Linked DNA regions of Homo sapiens. The protein of the gene in region 4 interacts with the protein of the main gene of each other region in a biochemical or structural test. Each region holds a gene or a part of one and is shown on either strand. Other genes may lie near its edges. The genes, in order: PAN2, USP4, WDHD1 and RBBP8.

Evidence for each region.
Region 1: of the proteins of RBBP8 (region 4) and PAN2, one has a biochemical effect on the other in vitro, tested with the Homo sapiens proteins (one study listed by BioGRID).
Region 2: the proteins of RBBP8 (region 4) and USP4 form a complex in vitro, tested with the Homo sapiens proteins (one study listed by BioGRID).
Region 3: the proteins of RBBP8 (region 4) and WDHD1 form a complex in vitro, tested with the Homo sapiens proteins (one study listed by BioGRID).

The regions. Positions count from the first base shown.
Region 1 is NC_000012.12:56,330,982-56,337,858, forward strand, and holds the start of PAN2 (PAN2-PAN3 deadenylation complex catalytic subunit PAN2), read right to left. Parts: upstream 3,020-6,877; 5' UTR 2,881-3,019; intron 2,738-2,880; exon of another isoform or gene 2,506-2,737; intron 2,228-2,505; 5' UTR 2,114-2,227; coding exon 1,832-2,113; intron 1-1,831. UniProt on the Homo sapiens protein: Catalytic subunit of the poly(A)-nuclease (PAN) deadenylation complex, one of two cytoplasmic mRNA deadenylases involved in general and miRNA-mediated mRNA turnover.
Region 2 is NC_000003.12:49,323,030-49,330,056, forward strand, and holds part of USP4 (ubiquitin carboxyl-terminal hydrolase 4), read right to left. Parts: intron 4,788-7,027; coding exon 4,657-4,787; intron 2,817-4,656; coding exon 2,690-2,816; intron 2,011-2,689; coding exon 1,865-2,010; intron 1,735-1,864; coding exon 1,673-1,734; intron 1-1,672.
Region 3 is NC_000014.9:54,961,074-54,968,100, forward strand, and holds part of WDHD1 (WD repeat and HMG-box DNA-binding protein 1), read right to left. Parts: intron 6,322-7,027; coding exon 6,207-6,321; intron 5,534-6,206; coding exon 5,402-5,533; intron 2,100-5,401; coding exon 1,879-2,099; intron 1,781-1,878; coding exon 1,665-1,780; intron 1,479-1,664; coding exon 1,425-1,478; intron 1-1,424. UniProt on the Homo sapiens protein: Core replisome component that acts as a replication initiation factor. Binds directly to the CMG complex and functions as a hub to recruit additional proteins to the replication fork.
Region 4 is NC_000018.10:22,936,308-22,943,334, reverse strand, and holds part of RBBP8 (DNA endonuclease RBBP8), read right to left. Parts: intron 6,582-7,027; 5' UTR 6,484-6,581; coding exon 6,375-6,483; intron 1-6,374. UniProt on the Homo sapiens protein: Endonuclease that cooperates with the MRE11-RAD50-NBN (MRN) complex in DNA-end resection, the first step of double-strand break (DSB) repair through the homologous recombination (HR) pathway.

The DNA.
Region 1 (6,877 bases), on a different chromosome or scaffold from region 4:
AGAGACGGGGGTTTCACCATGTTGGCCAGGTTGGTCTTGAATTCCTGACCTCAGGTGATCCGCCTGCTTCGGCCTCCCAAAGTGCTGGGATTACAGGTGTGAGTCACCATGCCCAGCCAGCATTTTTCTTAACAGTACTAATCAACACCTGATGTATTGTAATGTTTTTCTGTTTACTGCTTATTCCAAACCTAGACCTTAGGGCAAGGTCTGACACCTAGCATGTGGCTCAAAAAAACACTGGTTGAATGAATAAATGTCTACCTCTTCCAGTCCGGTAAATCCTAATTGCTTGTAGTTCCTGAATTTTGTACTCAGCAAGCTTTGTAGTATCTTGGGAATCTTTGTTTATCCTATGCTAAGACGCCTTTTCCCATCTTTCTCACCTGATTTCTACTCATGTTGCAAGACTCAGTTCAAGGGTTACTTCCTCCTCGATGCCCTTTCTGACTATTCTCCATCCTGTCCAGCATCCAGTACAGATTTTCACACTGGCGCTTAGTACCATGAAATTATCTGGTTTTGTATATGTTTTTTACCTCACTGTCCTGTAAACTCCTTGAGGGCAAGGATTATGTTTTATTTAGCTTTATTCACAGTGCCTAGCATAGCAGTAGACACTGCCTATTAAACTGAATGAATCACACACAAAAATTCATCCCTTCTAATGGAAAAACAATTCATGACCAAAGAAGTCAATCAGTAAATGAAGGACAGCGTTTTTTTTTTTTTTGTTTTTTGTTTTTTTTTGAGACGGAGTCTCGCTCTGTCACCCAGGCTGGAGTGCAGTGGCGTGATCTCGGCTCACTGCAACCTCTGCCTCCCAGGTTCAAGCGATTCTCCTGCCTCAGCCTTCCGAGTAGCTGGGACTACAGGCGCCTGCCACCATGCCCAGCTAATTTTTTGCATTTTTAGTAGAGACAGGGTTTCACCATGTTAGCCAGGATGGTCTCGATCTCCTGACCTCGTGATCCGCCTGCCTCAGCCTCCCAAAGTGCTGGGATTACAGGAGTGAGCCACCGGTCCCGGCCGGACAGCACAGTATTTCTTACAAAGTCTTTGGGCACCATAGCATATTGGCAATACGGGTACAGATTTTAAAAAATTAAGATTGATAACTGCTCTGAGAGATATTAAAATCAGCCAGAGAAGACAAAATGATTCAATGGAAGATATGCAGAATCATTCATTAAATATTCTATAATAATAAAAATAGAAAACACAGGTGGGGCAACAGCAATTGAGATTAGATTTGGATGGCTACAGACTAAGTGATGGGTACAACTATCAAGATAAATCAAAACACTGGATGGGCAATTGTGACAAAAGTGGGATGCTGGCCAGGTGCCGTGGCTCACACCTGTAACCCCAGCACTTTGGCAGCTCTATGCAGGAGGACCATTTGAGCTCAGGAGTTTGAGACAAGCCTGGGCAACATAGTAAGACTAAAAAATTTTTTAAAAATTAGCTGGTCTTGGTTGCGCATGCCTGTAGTCCCAGCTACTTGAGATGCTAAAGTGGGAGGATTGTGTGAGCCCAGGAGATTGAGGCTGCAGTGAGCCATGATCACATTACGCCATTGCACTCTGGCCTAGGCGACAGAGCAAGACCCTGTCTCGAAAAAAAAAAAAAAAAAAAGGGATGCCTCCTGAGAAAGAATATGTCATTTACTCCTAGATCCTAGATTCTCCCTTTATCCCTCCAACCAGACCCAGCTGTCTCATCACTACAACTCCTCGGTACTGGCTATCTGCAAAGCAGCTTCCTTGGGTTAAGACCAGATAAAGACCTTCAACATCTTTCAACCCTCACAAAGGGGTACAGTTCTTACCCCGTGGCTCCCCACCCACAGCATCTCCTCGTGCAAGTCAAAGTGGGAGACGGAAACAGGTACACCCACTTCAGCCACCACGCTGTGCAATTCAGAGTAGACACCTTCCATTATGTGCACTGATTCCTGGACGGGAAGAGCCTCCAAGGCCACTCCCTCTGGGTCCAGCTCCACATTCTGTAGCAGACTTGGGTTCAGGTGGGCATCCAAGACAGGGTCCAGGGCAGAATGCATGGCTGGGGCATATTCTGCCAGTCCAGGGTCCAGACCCTCAAAGTTCATGATGACGATGGCAGCTTACACCTGTGTCACACCCTCCCTTACCACAGTCCCTTTAGATGCCTGACCCAACCTTCAGCAAGACAGCACCGATGGGCCTAGAATGGACATCCTGGCCTGTAAGGGGAAAGAGGTAGCTGAGTCAAGGGTAGGCCCAGGTACTGGTACTTAGGGTCTTCTAGGTTATGGGGGCAGGAGGGAGATGAGGCAGGCATGAGGGATGAGACTGCCAGCCAAAGGATGAAGCAGGCGGGGGAGGGATGGGCAGTGGGGGTGGAGGTGGTAGAACTGTTGTCCCTATCCCTCCTCCGCTAGGCCCTCTGTACTCTCCACCACCCCATTATCTAACCTAATCCTTGACTTCCCTTTCTTCTCACTTCGGACTGCTCACTTGCCTTGTTCAGCCCTGAATCATCAGGTGAAGGGAGCGAGAATTGCGGGGGTTGGAGTTAGGTAGAGGGATTTAAGGTGCTTTCTCCCAGAATTGGGGGTGAAAACGGGTGGATTGGACGGTGGGGAGAACGAGAAGTCAGTTTCCTAGAATCCTCTCCAATAGCTACCCAGGATTCTCTAGAGGAAAACAATAATGGCCAGTTACCCACAATTGGGGCGGGGGCAGGGGAAGGTGACGGAAACGGCTAGTTACCCAGAATTCTCTGGGGGAACCAGAAAAATCGGTTATCTAGAATTCTCCCACGGCAGCGGTGAGGAGGGGGATAGGGCAAGGGTCAGATGTGTTCCTGGGATGCTTACGGGGAATGGGTCATTACCAAGATTTCTCCATGGCGGATATTTTGGAGCGCGTGGAATTAGAACGAGTAGGGGGAGCGCAAGCGCTGTCAGCTCCGCGGGAAATTCCAGTTTCCCCAGTTCTCCCCCACGCCTAGGGCTCAACCTAACCACTACGGCGCCAAGGACCGGGGTCCGAGGCGCTTCTTCCAATCAAGAAGGGCTCGGGGCATATTTTAGCCAATCAGAAGGGCTCCGGGCGCATCTAAGCCAATCAGAAGGAGCCAGGTACGGCGACCCCAGGAGAGAGCGTGTGACGCACGCGCCGGAAAAAGAGGTTACGGGGCGCCGGTGGGACAAACGCAGCCAGACGCCGGACTTGTTGGGTGGCGTTAGAAAGTAACTCTGTTTTTAGTCTTCTTGAACAAAATTACGTCTAGGTTTGAAAACCAAACTTTTATGCTTTCTATAACTTTAGGAACTCTAAAATAAGGGACACACAAGGCAAAGCACTAGGAGTCGCTGTTGGGTATTCCCAGCGGGGCTTAGTCTACCTCCTCTTCCTGCGGTGCCCTAGTGAGCCACTCCGCCACCTCTGACCCTGTTGCCCCCAAAACTCGCTGGCATTTCCTATTATTTCCAGATATGGGAGAGAAAAAAAAGGAAGCGGGAGCCGGACTCCTGACACAGTCCAAGTGGCTGCATCTTCTACAGGCATCCATCTGAAACTCCCATCCGTGATTGTTCCCTCCCCAGAGACCCCGGTAACATTCCCGGGTAACAAGATGCCCCTGGTTATCAAATTCCCCTAGCTCTTGAGGCTGGCTGGACGTTATCCCTCAGAGGGGGATGAGCATGGCAAATTGGGACTTGTTATTCTGAAGGATTCGTGGGTCCTGTGAACTCTAATTACTTTGAAATGGGTCTAGGTTGTGAGATGTCTCAGAGCACTTTAGCTCAGCTGTTATTACTGTTTCTAAAGGCCACATAAAGGGACTCTGATGGGAGACATTCCTCATGGAGGATTCAATTCTATAACATTTCTCTCAATAAAGGCTGGTAAATAGACCTTCATTAAAGGAACCAAGAATTTAAATTTCTAGGACTCAGAGGGGTGGGGTCCTATACCCAGTCAGAGATCCTACCTAGAGCCTAGACCAAGAGAAAAACACAGATGGTCTCTCAAACTGATTTGATCTGACTTCGCAGGTCATTAGATATAGAATCTCCGAAAAAGGTGGATGCTGAGAGACATAGACAGTTCCTACACTTTAAGAAATCTCCATCTTGAGGTCTCAAATTGAGAAAGACTTAACAGACCCATGAGAGTTACAGATCCCTAATAACCTGGGCTAAATAATCCATGTCTGCCGGGCGCAGTGGCTCACGCCTGTAATCCCAGCACTTTGGGAGGCCGAGGTGGGCGGATCACCTGAGGTCGGGAGTTCGAGACCAACCTGACCAATATGGAGAAACCCCGTCTCCACTAAAAATACAAAATTAGCCGGGCCTGGTGACGGGAGCCTGTAATCCCAGCTACTTGGGAGGCTGAGGCAGGAGAATCATTTGAACCTGGGAGGCGGAGGTTGCAGTGAGCCGAGATGGCACCATTGCACTCCAGCCTGGTCAGTAAGAGCGAAACTCCGTCTCAAAAAAAAGAAAAAAAAAAAGAAAAGAAAAAAGGATACTGTGAGGAGACACAAGAGCATCCATGACATAGATTATTTAGCTCAGCTGTAATTACTGTTTCTAATACAGTAATATTAGATGGTGATCTGCCTGCCTCGGCCTCCCAAAGTTCTGGGATTACAGGTGTGAGCCACCGCGCCCAGCCTTTTTTTTTTTTTTTTTTTGAGACAGGATCTCACTCTGTTGCCCATGCTTAAGCGCATTGGCCCTCTCACTCACTGTAGCCTCAACCTCCTGGGCTCAAGCGATCCTCCCACTTCAGCCTCCCAACTAGCTGTAACTACAGGCACTGGCCACCAAACCCAGATAATTTTTTTTTTCCTGTAGAGGTGGGGTTTTGCCACGTTACCCAGGCTGGTCTTGAACTCTTAAGCTCAAGCGATCCTCCTGCCTCGGCCCCCCAAAGTTCTGGGATTACAGGCATGAGCCACCATACCTGGCGTACAGTATCCAGTGTAATGCAGTGATTAAAAATTCAGGATCCAGACCGGGATGGTGGCTTGTGCCTGTAGTCCCAGGGGTGGAGGTTGCAGTGAACGGAAATGGTGCCACTGCATTCCAGCCTGGGTGACAGAGTGAGACCCTGTCTCAACAAAACCCCCCAAAAACCAAGAACAAAAAAGAATGCAGGATCTGATGCTAGATTGTCTGCATTAGAACTCTAGCCACTTAAGCTGGGTGTGGTGGCTCATGCCTGTAATCCCAGCACTTTTGGAGGCCGCAGGCGGGTGGATCACCTGAGATTGGGAGTTCAAGACCAGCCTGACCAACATGGAGAAACCCTGTTTCTACTAAAAATACAAAATTAGCCACCGGGCATGGTGGTGCATGCCTGTAATCCCAGCTACTTGGGAGGCTGAGGCAGGAGAATCACTTGAACCCGGGAGGCAGAGGTTACGGTGAGATGAGATGGCACCATTGCACTCCAGCCTGGGCAACAAGAGCGAAACTCCATCTCAAAAAAAAAAAAAAAAAAAAAGGAATTCTAGCCACTTAGAAGCTCTGTGATCTTGGGCAAATTGCTTATCTTTGCACCTCAGCCTCCTCCTCTGTAATATAGGGTAATAGTATCTACCTTAAAGGGTTGTTGTGAAAATTAAATAGTTTAGTACATGTAAAGTGCTTAGACAAAGTATTTGGCATTAAGCGAGAGTTGGATATATTAGCCATCATTATTAACCACCTGGGGGAACTTCAACTGATTTGGAGTCTAGGCATACAACTGGAAAGACCTGCCTAGGAGTGTCTTGTGAATGCGATTTGCATAACGGTTTAGGCCCAGCTGACGTCAAGGGCTCCTTATAGCTCCAGGTCAGTTGTAGCCCTGGATGTAGTTCCTGCCACGCAACAGTCCCACAATCTCCCCACCAACCCTTCTTCCTACCCAACTCCTGCAGCACCAGGAAGTGAAACAAAGAGGCAGAGCCCTGTGCCTCCAACTCACCCTTGTCCCTCTCATCCCATCCCCCAGGCTCTACTTCCTCCTCCTTTTCATCTTTCTTTCATCTCTTATCTTTTAGGGCTCCCAGAATGGGGACCAGAGATGGGAAGAACATAGGAGACGTTGTACACAAGTAAGGTGAACTCCCTATCCTGCCCCCTCCCCTTTCCTTATTCCATTGGTGTCCACCTTATTAGGGAGAGAGGCAAAACAGTTCTCACCCAAACTCAGATAATTCTCTGATGCTGGAAATGTTTAATCTAAAGGGTAGATTTCCATTTTTTTTTTTTTTTTTTTGAGACAGAGTCTTGCTCTGTCACCCAGGCTGGAGTGCAGTGGCGCCATCTCGGCTCACTGCAACCTCTGCCTCCTGGCTTCAAGCGATTCTCTTGCCTCAGCCTCCCGAGTAGCTGGGACTATAGGCGCCCACCACCGTGCTGGCTCATTTTTGTATTTTTAGTAGAGACAGGATTTCACCATGATGGCCAGGCTGGTCTCGAACTCCTGACCTCATGATCCGCCTGCCTCGGCCTCCCAAAGTACTGGGATTACAGGCGTGAGCCACTGTACCCGGCCCTTGGTAGATTTAACTTAGAATCGTAATATTTTTTTTTCTTCTCTTAGCTCATACCTACAGAATCATAATATTTGAACCAGAAGTGTCATTGGGCAGTTTTGAATAGCTCTAAGGGAAGGGAGACCTCCATTCAGGACAAGTTTCTCAGAAGAAAAGGGTCAACCTCTTGGGGGAGGCTTTGGGAGCCAGCTGTGTGGTCACCGATGGCCTCATTCTGACGTCTTCGAAATTGTTCTGGGACCCTCCACTGGGGTCGGGGCAGTCCCGGCTTTGGACCACCTTCCACTCCCACGCCCAACCTCACACTCTTAGCTGTTTCACTCGATGTTGC
Region 2 (7,027 bases), on a different chromosome or scaffold from region 4:
CAATCTCAGTTCCCTGCAACCTCCGCCTCCCGGGTTCAAGCGATTCTCCTGCCTCAGCCTCCCAAGTAGCTGAAATTACAGATATGCACCACCACGCCTGGCTAATTTTGCATTTTTAGTAGAGACAGGGTTTCTCCATGTTGGTCAGGCTGGTCTCAAACTCTCAACCTCAGGTGAGCCGCCCACCTCGGCCTCCCAAAGTGCTGGGATTACAGGCATGAGCCACTGCTCCTGGCCTTTTTAAAAAAAAAAAAAAAAAAAAAAAAAAAGAGATGGGGTCTTGCTGTCGCCCAGGCTGGAGGGCAATGGCAGAATCATAGCTCACTGCAGCCTCAAACTCCTGGACTCAAGCAATGCTCCCACCTCAGCCTGTCAGGTAGCTGGGACTACAGGCACTCACCATTGTGCTTAATCCCATCTGCAAAGTCCCTTTTGCCATGTCACCTGACATAATGACAGATTCTGAAACAGATTCTGGGAATTAGGATATGGATATCTCAGGGTGAAGATGAGCACAGCTATGCCTACCACAGCTATTTTATTTATCTTGTCAACAACTGGCAACCGGGGTTTCTTAAACTGGAGTCCATGACTGGACTTCAGGGGTTCTAACAGTTCTTCTCTTAAGAACTCATAGTTTTCATGGTTCTCAAATGACCTAGGAGCCCACTACTATGTAATGGTCACAGTCCAAGGCCTGACAGAGGGAAAAGGACAGAGCGCAACATTATTCCCATAACTACTGGAACACAGATATAATTTCCAAAACTTATACCATAACGAAAATTAATCACTTCTTTATCTCCCTAAGAACATGCACAGTTCCACATACCACATGAACATCTCTTGAAACAGATGTGTCCTTAGTCCAAGTTTTGTAGCTGAACAATTCACCCAGCAAGCTCCCAGGGCAACAATGAGTAACAGGCCACTGGGCAGAAACAGGTAGAATCAAGCTATCACTTTTTTTTTGTTTTTGTTTTTTTTGGGTCAGAGTCTTGCACTGTCACCTAGGCTGGAGTATAATGGTGCGATCTCAGCTCACTGCAGCCTTCACCTCCTGGATTCAAGCGACTCTTGAGCCTCAGCCTCCCGAGTAGCTGAGATTACAGGTACCTGCCACCATGCCTAGCTAATTTTTGTATTTTTAGTAGAGACAGGGTTTTACCATGTTGACCAGGCTGGGCTCGAACTCCTGGCCTCAGGTGAGCCACCTCCCACGGCCTCTCAAAGTGCTGAGCTTACAGGCATGAGCCACCATGCTCAGGCCTCAACTATCACTTTTAAGTCATATAAAACCCCATGCCTTAGCCTTCCTCTTATCCATCAAGGCCTCTAACTACATGTGGAGAAAATAAAAGCGTGACAAAAACAAAGCAACCTCCTGGTAGAGCAGCAACCTTAGACTTGATCCCTCATATCCCTTCCTCCTTTTCTCATTCTCCACGAGCAGAGGCTCGCCACCTTGCTGAGATATCCTGACAGGCTTCCCTTAGATGCTGCCCTGCTACCAAAAGCCACGGTCTTCATCCAGAAGCATGAACTCTGGATATACAAAATAGGCATTGTTCATCTGAATCAGAACAATTTTTCTTAGTACAAGTACTGCCTTAGGAAAGACTGTCTCTTTTGCACATGTGAGCCTACAACAAGGGAGAAAAAATTCACTTACTTTGACTGCAAGGTCTGCCTGGGCCATGTGCCATCTTCATTTTGAGGCTCAATTACTAGCACCTGAGTGAAAGGGGAAACCAAATGAGGAGAGTTCAAACCACCGCACTTCCAACATGCTTAGAAGCAAAAAGTATCTGGCCACACACCCTGGGCAGAGCTACCTGCTGGGGAATGGCCAGGGCCCTCCTACCTGACCCTGGTATAGCCCAGCATCCTGGACAGTGTTGTCTAGCTTGCTCAACTGCTCGTAGGTGTTGCTCATGTATTTGTTCCAGAGCCGTGTTTCACGCTCCGCAGGGATGTTGAATAGCTTCCGCATCTCTTTCTCGATGGTTGCTAGGAACAGGCAGAAATATCACTTGGGGCTTTGTCCACATGCAAGGCTAAAGACAGCCATGGCAAACTAATGCTCATCCTCTTTCTTGTCAGATGCTCACAGGTGCTCTGGATCAACCCCCTGATACCTCTTAAAATCAATCATCTCCCATGGGTGGCCTCTTGCACTCATATGCCTGGAAAGTATCCCTATGCTTCTTTGCTAACGTGTGTCTCTCATTTATGGCGCAAAAGCAACATAGAAAGCGAGAAAGCTTATCTTTGGAGTTAACTCAGATATGGCTTCAAAAGCTAGCTCCACCATTTTCTGGCTGCGATTTGTTTTTTTTTTTAAGAGACAGGATCTTGCTCTGATGCCCAGGCTGCAGTGCAGTGGTGGGATCGTAGCTCACTGTAAACCTTGCTGAGATTTTTAAATAAGTTATTTTTAAACTTCTTTGGATCTACATTTCCTTATCTTCATTATCATAGACAAATGGGCAAGGAGCAGGCCCAGTGTTCTCTCCATAAGAATTCCTGGAGGAATAGGCCCCCAGGTCAGGACTGGCAACTACAGCTCGAGATGATTTGGGTAACAAATCTAAAGAGGGCATATAAAATAATGCCCTCTTCCCTCCCATCAGCCACAATGTCCTACACTCTCTCACCACATACCAGGGACCCCAGCCCAGCCTCTCACCAATGGTGTCTGCCTTGCTGAAATGGCAACTCAGCACATTGGTGGGGTCACTGTTCTCACAGAGCTTCAGTTCCAGCAAATACACCTCGACTTTGCAGTGCTTGACAAACAGGCCATGCTCCACAACCTATGAACAAGAGGCAGGGGTGAGGGCATAGCGGTTTTGCAGCTGGGCAGTCTTGGATGTAGCATATCTTATCAGAAGCAAAAAGCAGAAAACTCATGATAATCCATTTCCTTTACTGATCAAGGGATCAAAAGAACAGATTTTTAAAGCTACCAGTACCTGGACAAAGAGTTTAAAAATATTTTTTCTGGCCGCGTGTGGTGGCTCACGCTTGTAATCTCAACACTCTGGGAGGCCGAGGTGGGTGGATCACTTGAGGTCAGGAATTTGAGACCAGCCTGACCAACATGGTGAAACCCCATTTCTATGAAAAATACAAAAATTAGCCGGGCATGGTGGCATGTGCCTGTAATCCCAACTACTCAGGAGGCTGAGACAGGGGAATCGCTTGAACCCAGGAGGTGGAGGCTGCAGTGAGCCAAGATCGCTCCACTGCACTCCAGCCTGGGCGACAGAGCGAGACTCTGTACCCCGCAAAAAAATATATATATATTTTTTTTCTACCCACTAAGACCAAGAGCATCTTGATGATATTAGAGAGAAGCCTATTCTTCACTGTTTTTTGTTTTTGAGATGGAGTCTTCCTCCGTCAGCAGCCTGGAGTGCAGTGGTGCGATCTCAGCTCATTACAACCTGCACCTCCTGGGTTCAAGAGATTCTCCTGCCTCAGCCTCCCGAGTAGCTGGGACTACAGGGGCCCACCATCATGCCCAGCTAATTTTTGTATTTTTAGTAGAGACAGGATTTCACCATGTTGGCCAGGATGGTCTCGATCTCTTAACCTCGTGATCCGCCTGCCTCAGCCTCCCAAAGTGCTGGGATTACAGGCGTGAGCCACCATGCACGGCCTGATCAAAGACTCTTTTTTTTTTTTTGCAACCGAGTCTCACTCTGTTGCCAGGCTGCAGTACAGTGGGGTGATCTCGGCTTACTGCAACCTCCGTCTCCTGGGTTCAAGCAATTCTCCTGCCTCAGCCTCCCGAGTAGCTGGGACTACAGGTATGTGCCACCACACCCAGTTAATTTTTGGATTTTTAGCAGAGACGAGGTTTCACCATGTTGGCCAGGGTGGTCTTGATCTCCTGACCTCGTGATCCACCCGCCTCAACCTCCCAAAGTGCTGGGATTACAGATGTGAGCCACTGCGCCTAGCTCAAAGACTCTTAAGCATAGAGGGAAAAGCAGTATCATAAAGGTTTTTTAAGATAAACAAGATGCAGGACATTAGCTATATGTCCATATGCCCCCAGTGAACTTTCTCTCATAGAATTTTCCAGAAAGTTCTCTCACAGCGCTGCTGGGCACATTCCAAGCCACTGGGCAGCTCTGATGTTTAGAGGCCACTCATGATAATATTCTGGGTGAGCAACTTCACTCACAACCACAATTTCCTAAAGAGAACCAGAAACAGGCTGGGCGTAGTGGCTCACGCCTGTAATCCCACCACTTTGGGGGGCCGAGTCGGGCGGATCACAAGGTCAAGAGTTTGAGACCAGACTGGCCAACATGGCGAAACCCCGTCTCTACTAAAAATACAAAAATTGGCCAGGCGTAGTGAAAGGCGCCTGTAATCCCAGCTACTCAGGAGGCTGAGGCACGAGAATCACTTGAACCTGGGAGCCAGAGGCTGCAGTGAGCCGAGATCGTGCCGTTGCACTCCAGCCTGGGCGACAAGTGCACAAGACTCCATCTCAAAAAAAAAAGAGATCCAGAAACAAGGCCTCAAGCACCACTATTCAACCACTGAGGTATGTTCATTTTCCTAGCAAACACTAGTCAGTGTCCAACAGAAAGCACCTGCAGACAGTGACCAGCAGGTGGGACAATTCACATAACTCACTTTTCTGACGATGGGTTGCTGGCCTTCTACACAGCCGTACCAGTTTAGTAGTTTATTCCACGCCTCGGTAGGGACCAATACATAGTCCAATTCATCAATTAAGTGTTCTTTCAAGGTCTGACTCTCAGGATCTAAAAAAGGAAAAGAGCACATAAGTCACTGCTCTTTACCCCAGAAATGATGGTTTTACATGATTTCCATGTACTTTTCAGAAATAAGAAAATTATTTACAGAAAGAAACAGGAATGAAATTCCAAAATTCTGTCACTGGTCATTATACAGAGCAGACTTTTGTCTTTATCCATGTTTTCTCTTTATCCATGAAGATTTTATGAGGAATTTGTATTTCTTCTATAATTGGAGGGAGAGAAGAGGATAAAAAAGAAAAACTCCAGGCTGGGTGTGGTGGCTCACACCTGTAATCAGCACTTTCGGAGGCTGAGGCGGTTGGATCATGAGGTCAGGAGTTTGAGAGCAGCCTGGCCAACATGGTGAAACCCCGTCTCTACTAAAAATATAAAAATTAGCCGGGTGTGGTAGCGGGCACCTGTAGTCCCAGCTACTCGGGAGGCTGAGGCAGGAGAATTGCTTGAACCCGGGAGGCAGAGGTTGCAGTAAGCCAAGATCACGCCACTGCACTCCAGCCTGGTGAAAGAGCAAGACTCCATCTCAAAAATAAATAAATCATACATGAGGTGGTTATGGTTTCCCACCATCCCTCCGACTAGTTTACACACCTTTTTCAGGGCAGGGTTCCTTTGTTGTCATTTCAACAATGCTCATAACATCTTCACCAGACATAGATTCCATCTCAAGAAACCATTTTCTTTGCTCACCCATAAGAAGCAACTCCTCAGCCATTCAAGTTTTATCATAAGATTAAAGCAATTCAGGCCGGGCATGTTGGCTCATGCCTGTAATTCCAGCACTTTGGGAGGCTGAGGCAGGCAGATCACTTGAGGTCAGGAATTCAAGATCAGCCTGGCCAACATGGTGAAACCCCATTTCTAGTAAAAATACAAAAATTAGCTGGGCATGGTGATGCATGCCTGTAGTCCCAGCTACTCGGGAGGCTGAGGCATAAGAATTGCTTGAACCCAGGAGGTGGAGACTGCAGTGAGCCGAGATACCCCACTGTACTCCAGCCTGGGTGACAGAGCAAGACTCTGTCTCAAAAGAAATAAAAATAAATAAAAATTAAAATTAAAAATAGGCCAGGCGCAGTGGCTCACACCTGTAATCCCAGCACTTTCGGAGGCCGAGGTGGGCAGATCATGAGGTCAGGAGTTCAAGACCAGCCTGGCCAGGGTAGTGAAACCCCGTCTCTACTACAAACACAAAAATTAGCTGGGCATGGTGGTGCACACCTGTAGCCCAGCTACTTGGGAGGCTGAGGCAGGAGAATTGTTTGAACCCAGGAGGCGGAGGTTGCAGTGAGCCAAGATTGCGCCACTGCACTCCAGCCTGGGTGACACAGCGAAACTCCATCTCAAAAAAAATAAAAATAAAAGTAAAAATAAAAAATAAAGCAATTCAGTCACATCTTCAGGCTTCACTTCTAATTCTAGTTCTCTTGCTATTTCCACTTTTGCTGTTACTTCTCCCACTGATGTCTTGAGCCCGTTGAAGTCATCCGTAAGTGTTGGAATGAACTTCTTCCAGACTCCTATTAATGTTGATTTTGACCTCCCATGAATCATGAATATTTTTGTGTGTGTGTGTGGGCAGGTGGGAGTGGCAGGCCTTACTCTATCACCCAGGCTGAAGTGCAGTGGCATGATTACAGCTCACTGCAGCTTCGACCTCCCAGACTCAAGCAATCCTCCTGCCTTAGTCTCCCAAGTAGCTAGAACTACAGGTGCATGCCACCAGGCCTAGCTAATTTTCGTATTTTTTATAGGGATGGGGTTTTGCCAAGTTGCCCACCCTAGTCTCCAATTCCTGGGTTCAAAGGATCCACCTACTTCAGCCTGCCAAAGTCCTGGGATTATAGGTATAAGCCACTGCACCAGGTGGAATCATGAATATTCTTAATGGCATCTAGAATGGTAAATCCTTTCCAAAAGGTTTTCAATTTAATTTGCCCAGATCCTTCAGGAGAATCACTATCTATGGCAGATAAAGTCTTATAAAATGTATTTCTTAAATAATAAGACTTGAAAGTTGAAATCAAATCAGGCACGCTGGCTCAGGCCTGTAATCCCAGCACTTCGGCAGGCTGAGGCGGGAGGATCACTTGAGGTCAGAAGTTTGAGACCAGCCTGGCCAACATGGTGAAACCTGGTCTCTACTAAAAATACAAAAATTAGCCAGGTGGAGGGACGGGCACCTGTATCCCAGCTACTCAGGAGGCTGAGGCAGGAGAATTACT
Region 3 (7,027 bases), on a different chromosome or scaffold from region 4:
AGGTTACAGACATGAGCCATCACACCTGGCCAGTAGTCTATTATCTGTTCTTCTTCAGCACAGTGTGCCATGCTATACCTCTGCTTAAAACCTACAACAGTCTCTCAGTGACCTTAGAATAAAGAGCAAAATCCTGACCGGGTGTGGTGGCTCACACCTGCAGGTCCAACAACTTTGGGATGTGGAGGTGAGGAAATTGCTTGAGTTTGAGACCAGCCTGGACAACAGAGTGACACCCCATCTCTATTAAAAAAAATAAAATAAAATAAAAAAAAGACCAAAATCCTTAATATGGCCTACACAGATCTGCATGACTTGGCTCCTGCCCATCACTCCGAAACCCTTCAGCACCACTTTCTCTTTGCTCTCTGAGCTTTTCACACCACCCTTTTGCAGCCTTCAGTTCACACATACTGTTCCTTAAGCCCAAATGCTTCTCTTCTGCTCCTGTTCCCATGCACCTTTGCCTTGCTGACTGTTATTCATCCTTCAGGTCTCTGCTGTAAACACTCCATGAGGCCTGCCTTGAAGTCCCTACCCATCCTCCACCACTGGCTAGATGACAGCTATGTGTCATACGCTCTTTTCATATTCTACATGTTTTTTAAGTTAATTTTTTTAAATCAAAGTAACATATGTCCACAGTTTAAAAAGTCAAATGGTACTATAAGGTTTATGCTCCCCACCAAAAAAGGGCCAGCAGTGCCTTACTTCAACCTTCTCTTATCCCCCAGGCCCACTCCCTGTACGCAACCATTTTCAACTCCTTTTTTTTTTTTTTGAGATGGAGTCTCACTCCATTGCCCAGGCTGGAGTGCAATGGCACGATCTCGGCTCACTGCTACCTCCACCTCCTGAGTTCAAGTGATTCTCCTGCTTCAGCCTCCCGAGTAGCTGGGATTACAGGCACATACCACCACCCTCAGCTAATTTTTGTATTTTTAGTAGAGATGGGGTTTCACCGTGTTGGCCAGGCTAGTCTAGAACTCCTGACCTCGTTATCCGCCCACTCCGGCCTCCCAAAGTGCTGGGATTACAGGCGTGAGCCACTGCGCCCAGCCTTCAATTCCTTTTAACTGTTTCTCCAGTATCCTGCATGCTTCCTCAGTGATACCCAGATCTGTCTTCAACATCTGTCTTCTCAGCTGGGCTAAAATAGCATTAAAACAGAGATCAACCACACATGTCTGTTTGACTTCTGTATCCACCATTAAGTAAAATGCCTGACACTCAATAGGCATTTTATAAACATCTGTTAAATGACCATAGCTTCACAAACAACATCTGAGATTAAAAAAACAAAAACATAAACACACACACACCAAAAGTGGCCTTAAGAGTTAAGGTGTATTTGCGTAGATGTGTCACTTTGCAGATGACTTGCAAAATTTCCTTGATATTACAAATTTATAAATATTTCTCACCTGACTTAGCTGAAACATCAGAGGAATTTGTACTTTTGGAAAACGAGTTCTGTCCTACAGATTAAAATAAAGCAATATAATGTAAATGGGGAAAATATAGTCATCCTCAATATACAACAACCAGATAGCAAAGAGGTCTGAAAAAAAGTATGAGTATTCAATTTCCCTCAGTTAAGCAAAATGGGAAAAGCCACATCCATGATAGTTCTCATGATTTATGGGCTTGAAAATGTATCTCACCAGGCTTATGTATTTCTGGTTTTTCTTCATCATCAGCTTCTCCACTGTCCTCAGCATCTTCTTCAACTTGATTTCTGAACCTTGGTTGGCTCCACTCTGTAGCAGTATTGCTGTAACTAAGAGAAAATAATATTATTCAATAAAGAGCTATGCAAAGACCAACTTAACATTCAAGACAGTAAAGGAAAATTCAAACAACTAAATTATTTCTTACCCAGCATTCAGCTTTTTTCTGAAATCTTCTTCTTCTTCTTCCTCTTCCACCTGGGTTGCTGTCAATTCGGCTGCCTTCTCTACAGCCAGTTCACTTAGTTTTTGAGCCAGTATTAATTTCCGAGAGCGAGAAGCATATTTAATGGCTAAATTCACAGCATTTTGAGTCATTAGATCAGCAAGTTCCACACAACGGAATTCTCGCTCCAGTTTACAAGAAAGCTAATCCAAAAAGGGGGGGGGGGGGGAGATCAAATAACATCAAGTAAAACTTTTTAAAGATACTGACACTACTAGTAAAACTGAGACAATAGTTTTCTAGCTACTCTATCTCCCTAATTCTAAGATGCACATTTTTACAAGTTTTAACATCTCTGAAATTGGAATTACAATTAATTACAATTAATGGTGGGTCAGTTTGGCAGCATTTTTATGTCTCCATGGCTTAAATGAATAAAGTAATGGTGCACTATGCAATAAACAGTGGCTTAGATTTGATGAAATATTACATACCACTTTAATCTACTAATTGCAAGAAAATTAAGAAATTTGTTTAAAAAATTCAAGGGGGAGGCTGGGCACGGTGGCTCACGCCTGTAATACCAGTGCTTTGGGAGGCCCAGATGGGTGGATCATGAGGTGAGGAGTTCGAGATCAGCCTGGCCAATATGGCAAAACCCCGTCTCTACTAAAAACACAATTAGCCAGGCGTGGTGGCGTGCGCCTGTAATCCCAGCTACTCGGGAAGCTGAGGCAGGAGAATCGCTTGAACCCGGGAGGTGGAGGTTGCAGTGAGCCAAGATTGCACCACTGCACTCCAGCCTGGGCGAGAAAGCGAGACTCTGTCTCAAAAAAAAAAAAAAAAAAAAAAATCAAGGGGGCCAGGTGTGCTGGCTCACACCTGTAATCCTAGCACTTTGGAAGGCCAAGGCAGAGGGACTGCTAGAGGCCAGGAGTTTGAGACTAACCTGGGCAACACAGTGAGACCCTATAACTACAAAAAATAAATTAGCTGGGCGTGGTGGCATGCACCTGCAGTCTTATCTACTCAGGAGCCTGAGACAGGAGGTTCACTAGAGCCCAGGAGGTTGAGGCTGCAGTGAGTTACAATCTTGCCACTGTACTCTAGCCTGGGTAACAGAGTGAGACCCTTTCTCTAAAAAATACAAAAAAGAAAAACAACAAACTGAGAAAAGTTGGTATTTTGAAGATTACTAAGGGTCTCCTAATTCATAGTGTATTAGAACTATTTTCTTACTTAGATATTCCATGTCTGATCCATCAGCACAAAAGCTTTAGATATTCACCTGGATGCCCTTTTCAAGATTTTTAGTATCATTTATCTATAATCAGTACTTCTTAATCGGGATGGTACACTGCCTCAGGGGGCATTTAGAAATAAAAAGGAAGCCGGGCGCAGTGGCTCACACCTGTAATCCTAGCACTTTGGGAGACTGAGACAGGTGGATCACAAGGTCAGGAGATCGAGACCATACTGGCTAACACGGTGAAACACAGTCTCTATTAAAAATACAAAAAATTAGCTGGTGTGGTGGCAGACAACTGTAGTCCCAGCTACTCGGGAGGCTGAGGCAGGAGAATGGCGTGAACCTGGGAGGCGGAGCTTGCAGTGAGCAGAGATCGCGCCACTGCACTCCAGCCTGGGCAACAGAGCGAGACTTCGTTTCAAAAAAAAAAAAAGAAATAAAAAGGAATAGTCTGGTTTCCACAGTGACTATTCTGAACTAAAGGCATTTGCCCGGGGGTCAGGAATGCTAAAGAAGAACTCAACAATCCCCTTGAACTCCTGGGCTCAAGATATCCTCCTGCCCTGGCATCTTTGATATGAGTCCCCTGGTATTTTTGATATGAGAAACACTGCCACAGGGAAAAGCTCCTCTAGGCTAAATAGCAAATACATGAAATATGTTTCCTTATATGTGTTGTACAAATAAAAAGGCTACTAGTTCCTGGACCACAAGTAACACTTTATAAAAGGAATAAAACTTTTTCTACAATAAACTGAGTTTTCTTAATACCAAACTTAAGGCCATGTTGCATAAAGGTGACAGTAGTGAGTACTACCTTTTGGAGACAAGAGTGGCAATTTGCTCTGTGGTCTCATATACCACTTTTCTCTAAGAACCTTTTTTCTCCAATTTTAAAATTAAAAGTCTGGACCATTCACTCTTGTCAACAAATATCGAGGTCTACTATGTGTTAAGCCACCATGTCAGTGCCTGGCATACAGCAGTGAGCAGGTCTCTGCCCTCTGGGGCATAAAGTCTAGTGTAAGACAAATAAAGAAGAAATGATACTATACTCCTCTCCATAAACCAACCTTGAGTGGGGACACAAGCACAGGAACTTTAAGACACCCTGCTCCAAAGATAAATGTACTTAAATATTCTAGACACCAAACCTGGCCACTGGTCACAAATAAATTTTCATCACACACAGCTGCCTAACTCAAAGAGGATGACAAAAGGCAGGCATATCTAACAGCCCGATCAAAGTTCTTAAGATTGCCCAGCCCTGGAGATTAAAAAACAGTATATACTCAAACTTTGTAAAATAATAACAGAAACTAGAGCAGTGGTTCTCAGTTACCTTGAGAGCCCGTTAAAACATAGACTGATGGGCAAAAGCAAAAGGGAAGTAGCCCTAGAGATGTTTATTCCTGCACATGATCTTAGCTACAAGGTACTGTTTTATTTATTTTAGGCTGGGCACGGTGGCTCATGCCTGTGATCCCAGCACTTTCGGAGGCCGAGGCAGGTGAATTACCTGAGGTCAGGAGTTCAAGACCAGCCTGACCAATGTGGTGAAACCCTGTTTCTACTAAAAATACAAAAATTAGCCAGGCATGGTGGCACACGCCTGTAGTCCCAGCTACTCGGAAGGTTGAGGCAGGAGAATCACTTGAACCCGGGAAGTGGAGGTTGCAGTAAGCCAAGACTGCACAACTGCACTTCAGCCTGAGAAACAAGAGCGAAACTCCGCCTAAAAAAAAAAAAAGAAAAAAATTTTAACTGCAAGACCAACTAGAAGATAGAACTTTACAAGGGAAAACACCACCAGATAAAACTTAAGAATGGCTGGGTGTGGTGGCTCACACCTGTAATCCCAGCACTTTGGGAGGCTGAGGCGGGCGGATCACGAGGTCAGGAGTTCGAGACCAGTCGGGCCAACATAGGGAAACCCCATCTCTACTAAAAAAAAAAAAAAAAAAAAAAAATTAGCTAGGCGTGGTGGTGTGTGCCTGTAATCCTAGCTACTCGGGAGGCTGAGGCAGAATTGCGTGAACCCGGGAGGCAGAGGTTGCAGTGAGCCGAGATCGCACCACTGCACTCCAGCCTGGGTGACAGAACGAGACTCCGTCGCACAAAAAACAACAACAACAACAAAAAAAAACTTAAGAATCTTAGGTTGTGGGACTTAGTCCTAATGCACAGACCTTTAAGAAATTCAACCTATAGAAAAGCATTTAACTTTAACGTTTTCAGTATATTTATTTTACTCACCGCAAGCATTTTCATTAAAAGTTCCTGTTGCTCTTTTGTTGCTTGATTTTTAGTGCTCTCTTCATATTCATAACCATTTTTAGCTAAATAATCAAGGTGGTTGTGAAATATAACTGAACGCCAAAATTGCTCCTATAAAAGCAAATAAAATTGCTTAAGGCCAACTATCACCTTAATATGAGGCAAGCGTTAAATATTTATCTTAAGATACCAGTTTTTGAATAAAATATGTTCTGAACTCTTCCTTTCTATAAGTTTATTTTACAATTTAAATTCTAGTGTGATACTACAGCTTAACTTTTTCCCCTATCCTTAAAAAAGGCAGCTGGGGAGGAATACAGCATTTAAAACAGTTTCCTAGCTATCATAATTAATGCTCAGAGAATTTGGTAAACAAGATTTTTAAAAGCTAACTTGTTTCTTATTTAGAATAACTAACTGCAAGATTTCAAATGACTTTTGATGACACAAGGCTAGGACTAGGGTCAGGCAAGCCAGGTGTTATGGCACAAAATGTATGGAGGCACTTCTTCTCAGGGACATGCCCCATCCTGAGAGTAAGTCTTTCCCCAGTGGGTCTCTGACAGTCACACCCATTTACTTTGTAGACAAAGTCCCTGGAAGCAGTGATGGCAATCAGGTGGCCTGGTGATCCCAAGCAGTCCTCTTCCCTCCCTGCTACCCCTATTTATGTAATTATACAGTAATGAATATTCAATACTGGCCATCAGGATAATTTTAAAGTGTGTGTATCACAGGTGCTGTATTATCAAATTCAAAGTGTCAAGGTAAGACTTCCACATACCTCCATTTGTCCTTTCTCTGTTGCAATCTGACAGTAAGGAAGCTTAAAGGATAATATAGCAACAGCAGGGCGTGGAAGGGTTGGGGGAAACCGAGAACCTTTACAAGGAATGCACCTGTTAGTAAAGAAAAGTTCCATCATAAAAATTTACTAACATGTCATAAAAACTACAAAATTTAAAAAGTTTTCAAAAGTTAGTAACTTAGAATAGTAATATTATAATAGCTGCCTTAATCATATATAACAAATATCTCTTTTTAAAAAAGTGTTTTAGGCTTGACTAGGCATAAAGACTATCCCTACATGCATTTCAAGAATAGAAAAATTCCTTCTCACATCTCACTTGATTTATTTTTTTTGAGACAGGGTCTCACTGTGTTGCCCAGGCTAAAGCACGGTGGTGTGATCACGGCTCACTGAAGCCCCAACCTCCCAAGTTCAAGCAATCCTCCCACCTCAGCCTCCCAAGTAGCTGGGACTACAGATATATGCCACCATGCCTGGCTAACTTTTGTATTTTCAGTAGCGATGGGGTTTTGCCATGTTGCCCAGGCTGGACTCGAACTCCTGGGCTAAAGTGTGCCTCCCACCTTTGCCTCCCAAAGTGTTGGGATTACAGGCGTGAGCTACCCTGCCCAACCTCACATCTCACTTTATTAAATGACAACCACTAAAAGTGAAATCAGCTCTCTTCATATTTTCCTTAGCAAACTACCACTTTTAAAACATAAAAATTGTACCATTAATACCTGTCATGGAATCCATGTTATCACCAAGATAAATGCTGATGAAGCTGCACATGGAACATACTCTAAGGTCAA
Region 4 (7,027 bases):
CTCAAGTAGCTGGGACCACAGGCACACACCACCATGCCTAGCTAATTAAAAAAATGTTTTTTGTAGAGACAGGGTCTCGCTTTGTTGTCCAGGCTGGTCTCAGACTCCCGGACTCAAGTAATCCTCCTGCCTTGGCCTCCCAAGTGTGTGCCACTGTGCCCAGCCTGACAGCATTCTTAATAATGAGTGGGACAATTCCTTTCACTGTTAATTTGTGCAGTCTTAAGATAATGTTCTCTTTTTAGAATTTTTGATTCTATGTATAGAAAATAAATGGAGCAATTAAAAAATGAATCAAGAAATATTTATCCTGTCCTATTAGAGCCCCCAAACTTTCCCATTTCTTCAAGGTGTTTCAACTTTGCCTCACAAAACCTACCTAGTTTTCTTTGAAACTGATTACCATATTTACTAGACACAGAAAATATATTAGCTAGATGTTAATAGCAGACGCTGGCATAGGCAAAAGATCATTTATTAAAATAGTGGTATTCTGAAAATAAATATTTTAAATTCTATTTTATTATTTGTGCTTTTGATAATAAACTTGATACTGAAAAAGATTTTTAAAGGCAATAAAATTTTGTACCCAAATAAATATGCTTTAAAACTTTTGAAATTTAAAGAATTCTGAAGTTTCCATTAAATTCTGTGAGTTCGGAATTTAAAGCATAAACACTGTATATCATCAGTAACAATCTGTGACACTGATACTAGCAGCATTTGTCACAAAAGGAACATATCATGAAATGATACAATCATGAAAGGATAAAATTATCTTAAAGGATATAAAAACTCGGTCATAAATGTCTCCAGAATTTTTCAACAAAAATGGTCTGGTTTGCATATTGCTAGTCTCCAACAGAAATTAGAGCATTTTGTCTATTCTTGCCTAGTTTTAAAAGACATGGATGCAGTTTATTATATTGTTGTGATCAGTGCACATACTGTCATATTTTGCTATCATTTTATTATGTTTTGGCAAAAGAGGCAAAAATAATTCTAAACACGTGTAGCAGAGCATTCAGATTCAAGCAAGTTCCTATGGGTACATTTCTGTAGCTAAGTAAAAACTATATATCTCAAATATTACCATTCCCAACATTTCTCTTTTATTTTTTACTGACATGAAGCTTTAAAAGTCATGAGTCAATTTTGATTCCTATATATACCTTAAAACCTGCAAAGTCCAGACAAGTCCATGTTTGATGTCTTTCAAACAGCTTCTTACACTGGTTTCTACAAATGGATTCCCCACCTCCTTAAAAAAATTAAGTTCCCTTCAGGCATGTCTTTGATGTTATCATATAGAGACTCTAATTTTATATGGAACTATGTGGAACATATTGACGAAGGCATGGCCCAAACCAAAATGTTTTAAAATGACATATCTACTTAAAAAATAGTACTTATTCATTTAATACCTTTAAGAATCCATAAGTTATTTGAAATTGGGAAAGTGGCATGATCAATATAACGTACCAAAGATTATCTTCTCTTATGAGCTCATATATCCAATACCTAATATTCATAAAACACATGGACCTTATCATATACACCAACAATTACTGTATTCCTCCCTTAAAGTTATTCAGAGTATAGAAACTTTTGTGGGAATGTGATTAGAACATAACCATGAGGAGTACACTTTAAAGGAATTATCTACTACATAATATTTGCAAGCTTTATATATTCTATAATTTGATAAATATGGCATATTGTTCCTATTAAAGAGTATACCATTTGTTTCTTGATGCTTCCTCACTGTAAAATAGGGATTTCATGAAGATCCTGTAACACCAAAGAATAGGAAGAAGAAATCTGTCAAATATTTTATTTCTATTAAATTAATAGCTTATAAATAGCCAGGCACAGTGGCTCCTGCCTGTAATCCTAGCACTTTGGGAGGCCGAGATGGGCGGCTTGCTTGAGGTCAGCAATTCAAGACCAGCCTGGCCAACATGGTGAAACCTCATCTCTACTAAAAATACAAAAATTAGCCAGGAGTGGTGGTGCGTGCCTGTAGTCCCAGCTACTTGCGGGGCTGAGCCAGGAGAACTGCTTCAACCTGGGAGGCAGAGGTTGCAGTGAGCTGCGATCATGCCACTGCACTCCAGCCTGGGTGACAGAGTGAGACTCTGTTTCAAAACATAAAAAACAAAAATAGAAATCAAGAGTTTCAAGAAAGTTGCAGAATATAAAATCAACTCACTAAAACCAGTTGTATTTCTATACACTAACAATGAACAATCTGAAAAGCAAATTAAAAAAACAATTCTATTTACAGTAGCATCAAAAGAATAAAATACTTAAGAATACATTTCACCAAGGAGACAAAAAACTTGTACAATGACAATCAGAAAATGTTGCTGAAAGAAATTATAGAATGACCAGGTGTGGTGGCTCACACCTGTAATCCTAGCACTTTTGGAGGCCAATGAGGTCAGAGGACTGCTTGAGCCCAGGAGTTGAGACTAGCCTGGGCAACAAAATGAGATCCCTGTCTCTATAAAAAAATAAATTAGCCAGGTTCGGTGGTGCATGCCTGTAGTCCTAGCTACTCTGAAGGTGGAAGCGGAAGGATTGCCTGCACCCTGGAATTTGAGGCTACGGCGAACCATGATTGTGCCACTGCACTCAAGCCTGGGCAATGAGGCAAGACCTCATCTCTAAAAATTAGTAATTAAAAATTAAAAAATCTTAAAAAGAAATATAGACCGGGCGCAGTGGCTCACGCCTGTAATCCCAGCACTTTGGGAGGCTGAGGCGGGCGGATCACGAGGTCGGGAGATCGACACCATCCTGGCTAACACAGTGAAACCCCGTCTCTACTAAAAATACAAAAAATTAGCCGGGCGTGGTGGCGGGTGCTTGTAGTCCCAGCTAGTCAGGAGGCTGAGGCAGGAGAATGGCATGAATCCAGGAGGTGGAGCTTGCAGTGAGCCGAGATCGCGCCACTGCACTCCAGCCTGGGCTACAGAGCAAGACTCTGTCTCAAAAAAAAAAAAAAAAAAGAAATATAGAAGACACTAATAGAAAGGTATCCCGTGTTCATGGACTACAAAACAATATTGTTAAGATGTCAATACTATATAAAGCAATCTACAGATTCAATGCATTACCTATCAAAATCCCAAATCCCAAAATCCCAACATTTTTTGCAGAAATAGAGAAATCTGTCCTAAAGTCAAGGCAAGATGACAATCTCTTCAGCATAGCACATACCATTTTACATAATTTGGATCTATGTACATTTCTAGCATCATATCCTATCCACCTCCCCCAAAACTCCAATCTCCCATTCCATTTCCTCTTAGAACTAAACCTAACTATCCAGAGTTCCTTGAATAAAATCAAGCTCTTATCTGCAAACTTTTGCATGTGCTATTCTCTCTACTCAGAAAATTCCCTCCCCTTCCACCATCTTCCTTGCCTGGCTAATTAGACTTAATTATCAAGCCTGGTCTGACATAAACCATGCACAAACCCACTTCCCCATGCAACCACACACACCCTCAGTTCTTCCTTCATGTTTTCAGATAATAACATAGTATACTGCATTAAAATTCTAGACTAGAAATTCCCTTAAAGCTAGCACTATATAGGATTTATTCTTATTCACAAGGTCTGGCACATAGTAAGTGCCCAAAAAACATTTCTTGAACATTTCTTTGTGTCTCCATGAACACTGGGGCTTGAAAGAATACTTTTGGGGTTGTTCATATTTCAAAACTCATTAATTAATAAGGGTGTCACCAGAAGTTTTGCAAGAAACTAAACTTACCATGGGAAAGTTCTTTTTTTTTTTGAGACGGAGTTTCGCTCTTGTTGCCCAGGGTGGAGTGCAATAGCGTGATCTCAGCTCACTGCAACCTCCGCCTCCTGGGTTCAAACGATTCTCCTGGGTTCAAGCGATTCTCCTGCCTCAGCCTTCCTGAGTAGCGGGGATTACAGGTGCGCACCACCACACCCGGCTAATTTTGTATTTTTAGTAGAGACAGGGTTTCTCTATGTTGGTCAGGCTGGTCTCGAACTCCTGACCTCAGGTGATCCGCCCACCTTGGCCTCCCAAAGCACTGGGATTACAGGCGTGAGCCACCGTGCCCAGCCTACCATAAGAAAGTTCTAATACAGACTCACATACTACACTTTAGATTCAGGTTGATTATGTTTTAATAGTACTCCAGTGTAATGATACAGCTATAAAGCACTGCAATATTAAACTTATAATAGGTAATCAAGAAACAAATGTAATATGAAGCATTTCTCATACATAGGGACATAGGGAAAGTTACAGAATTAAAGTATATTAAAATTTAATATTAAAACCTTGAGCTTAGCTTCATATGGTGTATCTTTTAACACAAATAATATTTACTCATCTCAACCACAATTGCTTAATCCTCTAAAACTCCTTGCACGTCATAAAAACCTTTTAACTGTTATTTCACTGTACTGTAATTATCTGTTTACACGACTCTACTAAGACTGCAGGCTGTCTGAAGGTAAGTGGCCATTCACTTTTGTATTTCAGTGCTACGGGTTTGTCAAATGACTTTATGTAGTATTTTTATGTCTATATCCTGCAAAGAATTTTATAGAAGAAAATTAAATTTAGAGGTTAGGTAATTAGGCTAAGATCACAGAGCAAGTGGGTAAATGAAATCAGAATTCAAATGCAGGTCTTCAGTCAACAAATTGTATACGTTTTCCACTATCTCATACATATTACCACAAGTAAATAACAGCAAGTTGTATACAAACTATGTTCTGTGGTTAAAAAGCACCAATTTGACCATAAAAATGAATCACAAAAACTACAATTGTAAATGTCCTCTAAAAATGAGATCTGGCTGGGCGCAGCTCACGCCTGTAATCCTAGCTGTTTGGGAGGCCAAGGCGGGAGATCACCTGAACTCAGGAGTTTGAGACCAGCCTGGGCAACATAGCGAAACCCTGACTCCACAAAAAATACAAAAACTAGCTAGGTGTTCTAAGGTGAAGGATAAGTTTAAAAAAAACAAAAACAAAAACAAACTAGCTGGGCATGGTGCGTGCGCCTGTAGTCCCAACTACTTGGGAGGATGAGGTGGGACAATCACTTGGGCCCGAGAGTTTGACACTATAGTGAGCCATGTTTGCACCACTGCACTCCAGCATGGGTGACAAAGCAAGACCCTGTCTCAAAAAGAAAAAGAAAAAAAGATCAGCTGGGCACAGCAGCGGACACCTGTAATCCTAGCACTTTGGGAGGCTGAGGCCAGTGGACTGCTTGAGCCCAGAAGTTCAAGACCAGCCTGGGCAAAAAGGCAAAACTCTGTCTCTACAAAAAATACATAAAATTAGCTGGGCGTGGTGGTGCACACCTGTAGTCCCAGGTACCCAGGAGGCTAAGGTGGGAGGAACACCTGAGCCTGGGAGGTTAAAGCTGCAGTGAGCTGTGACCATACCACTGCACTCCAGCCTGGGCAACGGAGTGAGAACCTCTCTGAAAATTAATTAGTAAATAAATAAATACATGAATATATAAATAAATAAATAAATAATGAGATCTTTGGGCCAGGCGCAGTGGCTCACGTCTGTAATCCCACCACTTTGGGAGGCAGAGACAGAAGGATCACTTGAGGCCAGGAGTTCAAGACCAGCCTGGGCAACATAGTGAGACCCTGACTCTACAAAAAATAAAAAATTAGCCAGGCATGGCAGCGTGTGCCTATGGTCCCAACTACAGGAGGGAGGCTCACTTGAGAATGGGAGGTTGAAGCTGCAGTGAGCTGTGATCACACCACTACACCCCAGCCTGGTGACACAGTGAGACCCTGTCTCAAAAAAAATAAAAAAAAAAAAAAGATATCTTTGAATTTAAAGATGGCCATTAAATGTACAAAATTCAACAGTGGACTGAATTAAAAAAAAGTATATATACATCATGGAATACAATGAAGCCATAAAAAAGAACAAAATTATTTTCTTTGCAGCAACATGGATGCAGATGAAGCCATTACCCTGAGCAGACAACAGAAATACTGCATGTTCTCATTTATAAGTGGGAGCTACACATTTAGTACACATGGACACAAAGAGGGGAACAACAGGTACTGGGACCTACATGAGGGTGGAGGGTCAGGGGGGTGGGAAGAGGGTGGGGATTGAAAAACTACCTATGGGGTACCATGCTCACTACCTGGGTGATGAAATCATTTGCACACCAAACCCCAGCAACATGCAATCTATCCATGTACCAAATCTGCACATGTACCCCCGGAACCTAAAAGCTGAAATAGAAATAATAAACAGGACTGTCATACAAAGGTATACAAAGCCACTACAGTCTCAACAAAATACTGCTGTAAGTATTTAAGAAAAGATTTTACCTTGTACTTCTCTATCATGACATTCTTTTAGTTTTGTCCAAAGGTCCTTAAAGTCACTAGATGTATCTGCAGAGTTAGGGCTTCCACAGCTGCTTCCCGAGATGTTCATCTTGCTTAATATGCTCCACACTTCTACTTGCTTAATATTTTCTGACCTTTTCTGTTACATTATAGAGGTATCAAGTCGTCTTTGGACAGGTCAAATACCTGAAATGACAGATTGCAACATAAATGAACTTTGCATTTATCTTTATGTACTTTGAAATCAGGATGAAACACAAGCCCAGATATCCTCATTTACCATTTCCTTATTTACCTATAATCAATCATTTTTAGAATTTGGGAGGGGAAGGAAAGAATAAGGAAAGATGATAATGGTGAGAAAAGTTCTGATTTCAGTTATTTGGCTATATGAGGTAAATTTTCAGGCAAATTTTCTTATTTCTCTTAGAGGAAGAAATTATCTCAATTATATTAAACAGAAAGGATTCAGATATTGAGGGGTTTTTATCATTCATGGTCAGTATTAATTTACCACTATAGACTAATGTATTGTTTTGGCTGGGGGAGATGGCTCTTGCCTGTAATCCTAGCTCTTTGGGAGGCTGAGGTGGGCAGATCACTTGAGGCCAGGAGTTTGAGATCAGCCTGGC